2 linked regions of the Homo sapiens genome follow. The protein of the gene in region 2 purifies or fractionates together with the protein of the main gene of each other region. This does not show direct contact. Each region holds a gene or a part of one and is shown on either strand. Other genes may lie near its edges.

Evidence for each region. The genes of interacting proteins can lie anywhere in the genome.
Region 1: the proteins of IAH1 (region 2) and NT5DC3 fractionate together in Homo sapiens (co-fractionation; one large-scale study listed by BioGRID). This does not show direct contact.

The regions. Positions count from the first base shown.
Region 1 is NC_000012.12:103,782,235-103,785,734, reverse strand, and holds part of NT5DC3 (5'-nucleotidase domain-containing protein 3), read left to right. Parts: coding exon of another isoform or gene 1-59; exon of another isoform or gene 60-127; intron 128-259; coding exon 260-400; intron 401-3,500.
Region 2 is NC_000002.12:9,484,307-9,487,680, forward strand, and holds part of IAH1 (isoamyl acetate-hydrolyzing esterase 1 homolog), read left to right. Parts: intron 1-125; coding exon 126-244; intron 245-3,374. UniProt on the Homo sapiens protein: Probable lipase.

The DNA.
Region 1 (3,500 bases), on a different chromosome or scaffold from region 2:
ATTCCAGACCTAGTGTTTCTGCAGGGGTTGTGACTCACGGCAATTATTTCCAGAACTGAAACTTTCTTGGAATGAAATGATCAAAGGCTGGGGCCAAATAGGTTTTAATTAAATGTAATTCATTGAATTCAGCTTGGTGAATAACTAACCATTACCATCAAAAAGTAATTAAATGAATGCCTCTCATGTCTGGGAAAATAATGACATAGTTTAGATTCTGTTGAGACTGACGTTGACTTTTCGTGATCTTTGTGATCAGGATTTGACCCTAAAGCATGGCTGGAGGACTGGTGCAATCATCCCAGAGTTGAGATCTGAGCTCAAAATCATGAACACGGAGCAATACATTCAAACCATGACCTGGCTGCAGACCTTGACTGGCTTATTGGAACAGATGCAGGTTTGGATATATTATTTTTCTCTCTCACTTTTTCTTTAAGCCTGAGGTTAGAAAGTTACTTCAGGTATTTTCTGCTTAATTGTTATAAAATATGAGGCTTAAGTTGTTTTCAGTAGACTGTAGAATAACGATTGGGGTTCTTTTGCCTAGACAGTGTTTGTGGGGCCTTTGTTAATGCAGGTGTTTGCTCACATTCCTCTGTCAGTGAAGATCCAGTGTCCTCACTTCCACACTGAAGCCTGCTAGGAGCTCTCCTGTGGGATGCTGGGATTCAGGAAGCCCTGCCAGTGCTTGAGTCTGTGCTGGTTCTGTCTGCACCTGCTACGGTGGGACTTCTCCATTCTGGGCCTCAGTTTCCCCATCTGTGAAATAAAGGGGCCGCTGGAACGAAAACTTCAGTCTAGGCACCATGGCTTACTGGAAAGAGTCTCAAAGCAAGAGTCAAGATCCCTGGGTCCAGCCTCAGTTGATTCTGAGGATAATACCTGCAGTTTGCTGGCTTACTGGAGTTCCCTGGCAGTTACTTCCTTAAGTTAAGTTAGGCAGCCAGTTTTGGCTGGTAAGTGAGGAATGGCAGTTTTATCAGTCGTTTCCTGGCCCATGGAAGCTGCCTCTCTTTTGTAGCTGTATCCCCTTAATTCTCCATGTGCCCCTTTCCTTTCCAGTTCCATGAGGCACCTTGCTTTCTCCCTGGCTCCAGCTTGCCTGGGCTACAGCCGTCTCAGCATGGGTGCTGACATTTTTAGGATCTGGGCACAGGTGCTTGCTCTCTTGGCTAACACACCTGCAACCTGTGGCCACAGCCTATTGCCCATGCCTGCCCTCTGGCTTTGGAAATGGGCAGGGAATTGCCTTGCCTGCCCCAGCTGGCACTCTGCTTGGGAGTGGCTGAGCAGTGAGATCAGGCAGGGCCATGAGTGGCAGGCCAGATTCTGGCTCCAGGTGCATGCATTCCAGAGCATGGGGCCCTGCACGTCCCCCTGGGCCTTGTTTCCAGGATGCACTGGGCTCCATTAGTTCTTGGCTCTTCTCTGATGAGAATCCTCTGATGAGGATTTATTCTGTTTCCCTCGCTATGCTTGTCTGTGAGATGATTTACTAAAAATATACAGTGTCAATTCTGAGTTAGTGTAGTTTAGAGTCTGTGCATGTCATACACTACTAATAGTTACTTTTTATGTGCTGGACACTGTGCTGAGTGCTGGCTCTATACACTTTGCTCATTTAATAGTCACAGCTGTCCCTTGCAGGTAGGTACAATTTTCCCATTTTAGAATAAGGAAACAGTTTTTGAGAGGTTAGGTATCATTCATGTCTGAGGTCATAAAATGGCAGGGCAGGGCTTGAACCAAGTCCCCAAGTCCATGCTTCAGAGCACTGCTCTAATGTGCCTTCCTGTTTAGAGGATTCGGGTATAGGCAAGGCTTGACTCACCCTCAGTGAAATCTCTGTGACCCTGGCAGCTGGTCATAGGTACAAACACAACTGCACGTAGATGGTATCAGTATATTTTAGCTTTGGAAAGAGGTTTTTTTTTTTTTTGGTTTTATTTTGTTTTCCTTTTTCTGACCTGTGTAAAAAGTTGACTACTAAGGAATGTGTGTTTTAGAGAATGGAAGTGCTGAAAATATTTCTGTGGTTTGTAAAATTAATTATATGAGGTGTGGGGTAAGGGAAGGAAGAAAAGGGAGTTGAGGTTTACATAGCTGCCCCCATTTTGCAGGAGAGAAAACTGAGACAGCGAGATAGGTGACTTTTCTAGAATCACAGTTCTCGGTTGGCAGAATCAGGCTATGTAGAAATGTCGTAAGAACTTACCGTGTTCTGGACACTGAGACCTTTAAGTTCATTTCATCTTCACAGAAACTCTTTGAAGTAGTTCTGAAACATCACTGCCATTTTACTGATGAAGACCCTGAGGCGCAGAGGAGATATAACTTGCTCTAGTGAGGGGTGATGCTGGTGTTTACACACAGGCCGACCGACTCTAGACCCTTAACCTCTGTGCACCTATATTGATTGCCTTGGGTTCTGGCACTTTGTACAGAGTTCTGTCAGGTTGGATTCACTAGGATATAGAGGTGTATAGCTGCTAACTAAAAAAACATCCAAATCAGTGTCCTATCTCACTGTCACCCTCTTCCTCAGTGTTCCCTTAGAAAGTTATAAGTTATTCCACTGAGCCTGTGGTAGATGTTTCTAGAACTCCCCCTTGGGGATTATTTTCAGAGCATGTAGCACATTATTTGGACAGTTTTCTGAGGAGAAAAATTGGTCCTCTGAGATTGGGTTTGATTTTTTCAGAGCCAGTAGAGTGTCATTTTTTTGTTTGTTTGTTTGTTTGTTTTTGAGATGGAGTCTTGCTCTGTCGCCCAGGCTGGAGTGCAGTGGCGCGATCTTGGCTCACTGCAGCCTTCACCTCCCAGGTTCAAGCAGTTCTCCTCTCTCAGCCTCCCAAGTAGCTGGGACTACAGGCTTGTGCCACCACGCCCAGCTAATTTTGTATTTTTAGTAGAGATGGGGTTTCACCATGTTAGCCAGGCTGGTCTCAAACTCCTGACCTCACAGAGTGTCATTTGGAGCCGAGTCTCATGAATGAAATAGAAGTATATAAATTTTGGTTGTAATTTCATTAGTTAGCCTTGAAGTGCATTCCAAAATGGCTGTGGTTCATGGTGGTGGTGCTGGCATTGGTAGCCGCTTCTCAGGTAACCAACCAGTCAGAGGCCACATTTAGACCACAGGTCAGCAAGCTTCTGCAAAGGGCCACATGGTAAATATTTTAGGCTGTGCAGGCTGTAGGCTCTGTTGCAGCTACCCACCTCTGCACTTGTAGCACAAAAGCAGCCGTGGACAGTATGTGAATGAATGGTTGTAGCTGTGTCCCAATAAACTTTATTGGTGGACACTGAAATTTGACTTTCATGTAATTTTTACATGTTAGGAAATTCTTCTCTTTTTTTTCTTTTGAGGCAGTCTCACTCTGTTGCCCAGGCTGGAGTGCAGTGGCATGATCTCAGCTCACTGCAGCCTCTGCCTCCCAGGCTCAAGTGATTCTCATGCCTACCCTCCTGAGTAGCTAGGATTACAGGTGTGCACC
Region 2 (3,374 bases):
GGCTGGCCCAAGTGGGGTCAATATTTAATGGCATTTTGAAACTGTCTAGATGAGTGGAGCAGAACTTACACAAGGGCCAGCACTTGGGTTTACCAACTGCCACCTCTATTTCTTCTCTTCAATAGGTTGCAAACTAAATCGCCTGAACTCTGTTGTTGGTGAATATGCCAATGCGTGTTTACAAGTGGCCCAAGACTGTGGGACTGACGTACTTGACCTGTGGACCCTGATGCAGGACAGCCAGGTACGGTGGCTTGCTCGGTCCTCTCGGGGTAAATAGGATCACACAGAAGTAAACCAGGTGTGTGTGCAGCAGCTTTCCCTAGAAAGGCCCTGCTTAGCTAAGACAGTCATCCCTTTAGCCAATGAAAACAAACAGGCTTGGGGGAGGGGAGGAATGGAGGTTCCAGGATGGCTCACAAGCCCAGCAGCTTAATTCAGCCAGGCTCCTTGGCTAGGAGTTAGTGCGCAGTGACATCAATGAGCAACACATGGCTCATATTTATGAACGTCCAGGCCAAGTTCTTCTTTCATACAGAGAATGGCAGAAAGCTAAAACTTGTTAATAGGTAAAACAATGAATTTAAATACAGTATTGGCTAATAAAACTGTTTGAGATATGTAGTTCTAATTAAGTTACTTTGTTTTAAAGCCTGAAAGCACAAATATAAAAGGTAAAAAGCAGGTCCCATGGAATGGTGCACTGACTCAGGAGACAGCTGGTTTCTGACGCAGTCACACATACACTTAGGGAGGACCTGGCAGTCCACTCCTGGGTTATCTGCCCTAGAGAAATGAAAACTATGTTCACACAGAACCTGGGTGTAACTGTTGACAGCAGCATTATTCCTACCTGCTGGAAACACGCCAGTGTCCTTCTGTGATGAATAGGGAAACTGGTGTGTCCGTGGAATGGGATACTACTCGGCAATAAAGAGGAGGAACTGACAAGCGCAGCAACGTGGGTGACTCTCGAGGCGCTTCACTGAGGGAAGGAAGCTGGTCTCTGAAGGCTACTTACTACATGAGTCCATCTGTTTTGGTGTCTCAAAAAGGCAAGACTTGGGCTGGGTGTGGTGGCTCACACCTGTAATCCCATCACTTTGGGAGGCCAAGGCAGGTGGATCACCTGAGTTCAGGAGTTCAAGACCAGCCTGGCCAACATGGCGAAACCCTGTCTCTACTAAAAATACAAAAATTAGCTGGGCATGGTGGAGCGCGCCTGTAATCCCAGCTACCCAGGAGGCTGAGGTGTGAGAATCGCTTGAACCCGGGAGGCAGAGGTCACACCACTGCACTCCGGTCTGGAGGATACAGGGAGACTGTCTCACCCTCCCCAGCCCACCCCCCAAAAAAAGGCAAGACTGCAGTAACAGAACAGGTCCATGGTGGCCAGAGGTTAGGGCAAGGAAAGGTATGGCTAAATTCAGGTTCCACACAGATACTGGTGAAGAGGGGCAGACAGGCACTGGTCTTTTTTAATTTTTCTGTGACCTTGTGCTACTCTTTTGTAAAGAGCTTGTTCAGTAGGGCACATTAAAGGCTACTTCATTGCTATGCTGGGATCCAGAGAGAAAGCTTGGACGGGACTGATGATATTTGAAGTACTCAAGGGAAGGAAGGATCCAGTGTGCGGGAAGCTCTTTGGACAAACGGGAAGACTCACAGCCTCACCGGTTTCCTCTATTCCTAGCTGTTAGGTTTAGGCTACTTGGACAAAGCAACATAGAAAACAGCCAAGAAACTAACCCAAGTGCCAACTTTTTCCTCTCCCCTAAATATTAATCCATACCAATCGTTCCAATGACCTACACATTTATTATCCATCTGTAATAGGGAAAATGGTCACCAGTGGGAAAGTCATACTACCACGTGGATGCCGAGTCACCAGTCACCTTTGGAGGCCCTGAGAGCCTAAGCAGATCTGGACCCTAGGCCTCTAGTCTTCCTCTGAAACCCTGGAGTACTGGAACCTTCCAGAATTCCAGATTAGGAGGGGCCTTGGCAGCTTGAGTGCCAAAAGGGTCGACATCTAGAGTTCTGTTGTCTAGGAAAGGAAACTGCAAACTATTGGGCTAGTTTTGCTCACATGTCTTTTTCAATTTAATACAAAACTGAGAGGGTCGTCCTTAGAGATCATCTCATCTCAAACTGCCTAGATGAGAAAACCAAGGCCGAAGAAGAAGTGCTACTATTATATGATAGCATCTAAATTTCTGGTCTATTAAAAGTCACATAAGGCCGGGCGCGGTGGCTCATGCCTATCATCCCAACATTTCGGGAGGCTGAGGCAGGTGGATCACCTGAGGTCAGGAGTTCGAGACCAGCCTGGCCAACATGTTGAAACCCCATCTCTACTTAAAAATACAAAAATTAGCCAGGCGTGGTGGCAGTCACCTGTAATCCCAGCTACTTGGGAGGCTGAGGCAGGAGAATCACCTGAACCCGGGAGGCAGAGGTTGAATTAGGCCGAGACTGTGCCATCGTTCTCTAGCCTGGGCAACAAGAGTGAGACTCTAGCTCAAAAAAAAAAAAAAAAGTCACATAAGCTAGTTGGCCACCCAGATTCTAACAGAGCTCTTGGCTAGTGAGATTCTTCCCCAAGAAAGAAATGGCTGTATGGGTAAAATTCTTATAGTTCAGGGCCTGGTATGGCTGCTCATGCCTGTGATCCCAATACTTTGTGAGGCCAAGGTGGGAGTATTGCTTGAGCCTAGGAGTTCAAAACCAGCCTGGGCAACATAATGAGAGACCCATCTCTACAAAAAGCACAAAAATTAGCCAGGTAGCCAGGTATGGTGGCACGTGCCTGTAGTCCCAGCTGCTCAGGGGGCTGAGGTTAGAAAGATCGCTTGAGCCCAGGAGGTTGAGGCTGCAGTGAGCCATGATCATGTCACTGCACTCCAGCCTGGGCAGCAAAGCAAGACCCTGTCTCCAAAAATATGTGTATCTTTTTAAATATGTACTCTTGAGTTCAGGGCAATGGGAGGGAGACTGGACTCCTGTGTCCCAGCAATTACTGTTCTAGGTTAGATGGTAGAAGTTCTTTCTGCCTAAAAACCTGCCTAGAGTCAAAAACAATATTGACTCATGGGGCCCCTGAACACTCCTAATACCAAATTTTTCATTTTTGCTGATTACGTTAATAGGCCATATTTACCTGTTAAGGTTCTTTCAAATAACCTGAGAATCATGTCATATGATTCAGAAGACCTGGAATGAGGTCCCAGCTCACTTAATGGTGAGTGACTTTCATGAAACTCAATTCTATAATATGGAGACAGCACTATAGCACTAGTCAGGGTTCTCTGTGTGTTCAAACACCTACGTAAATAGCACATCAGTGCTACTGTAGTCCAAGACACCTCTGGTCA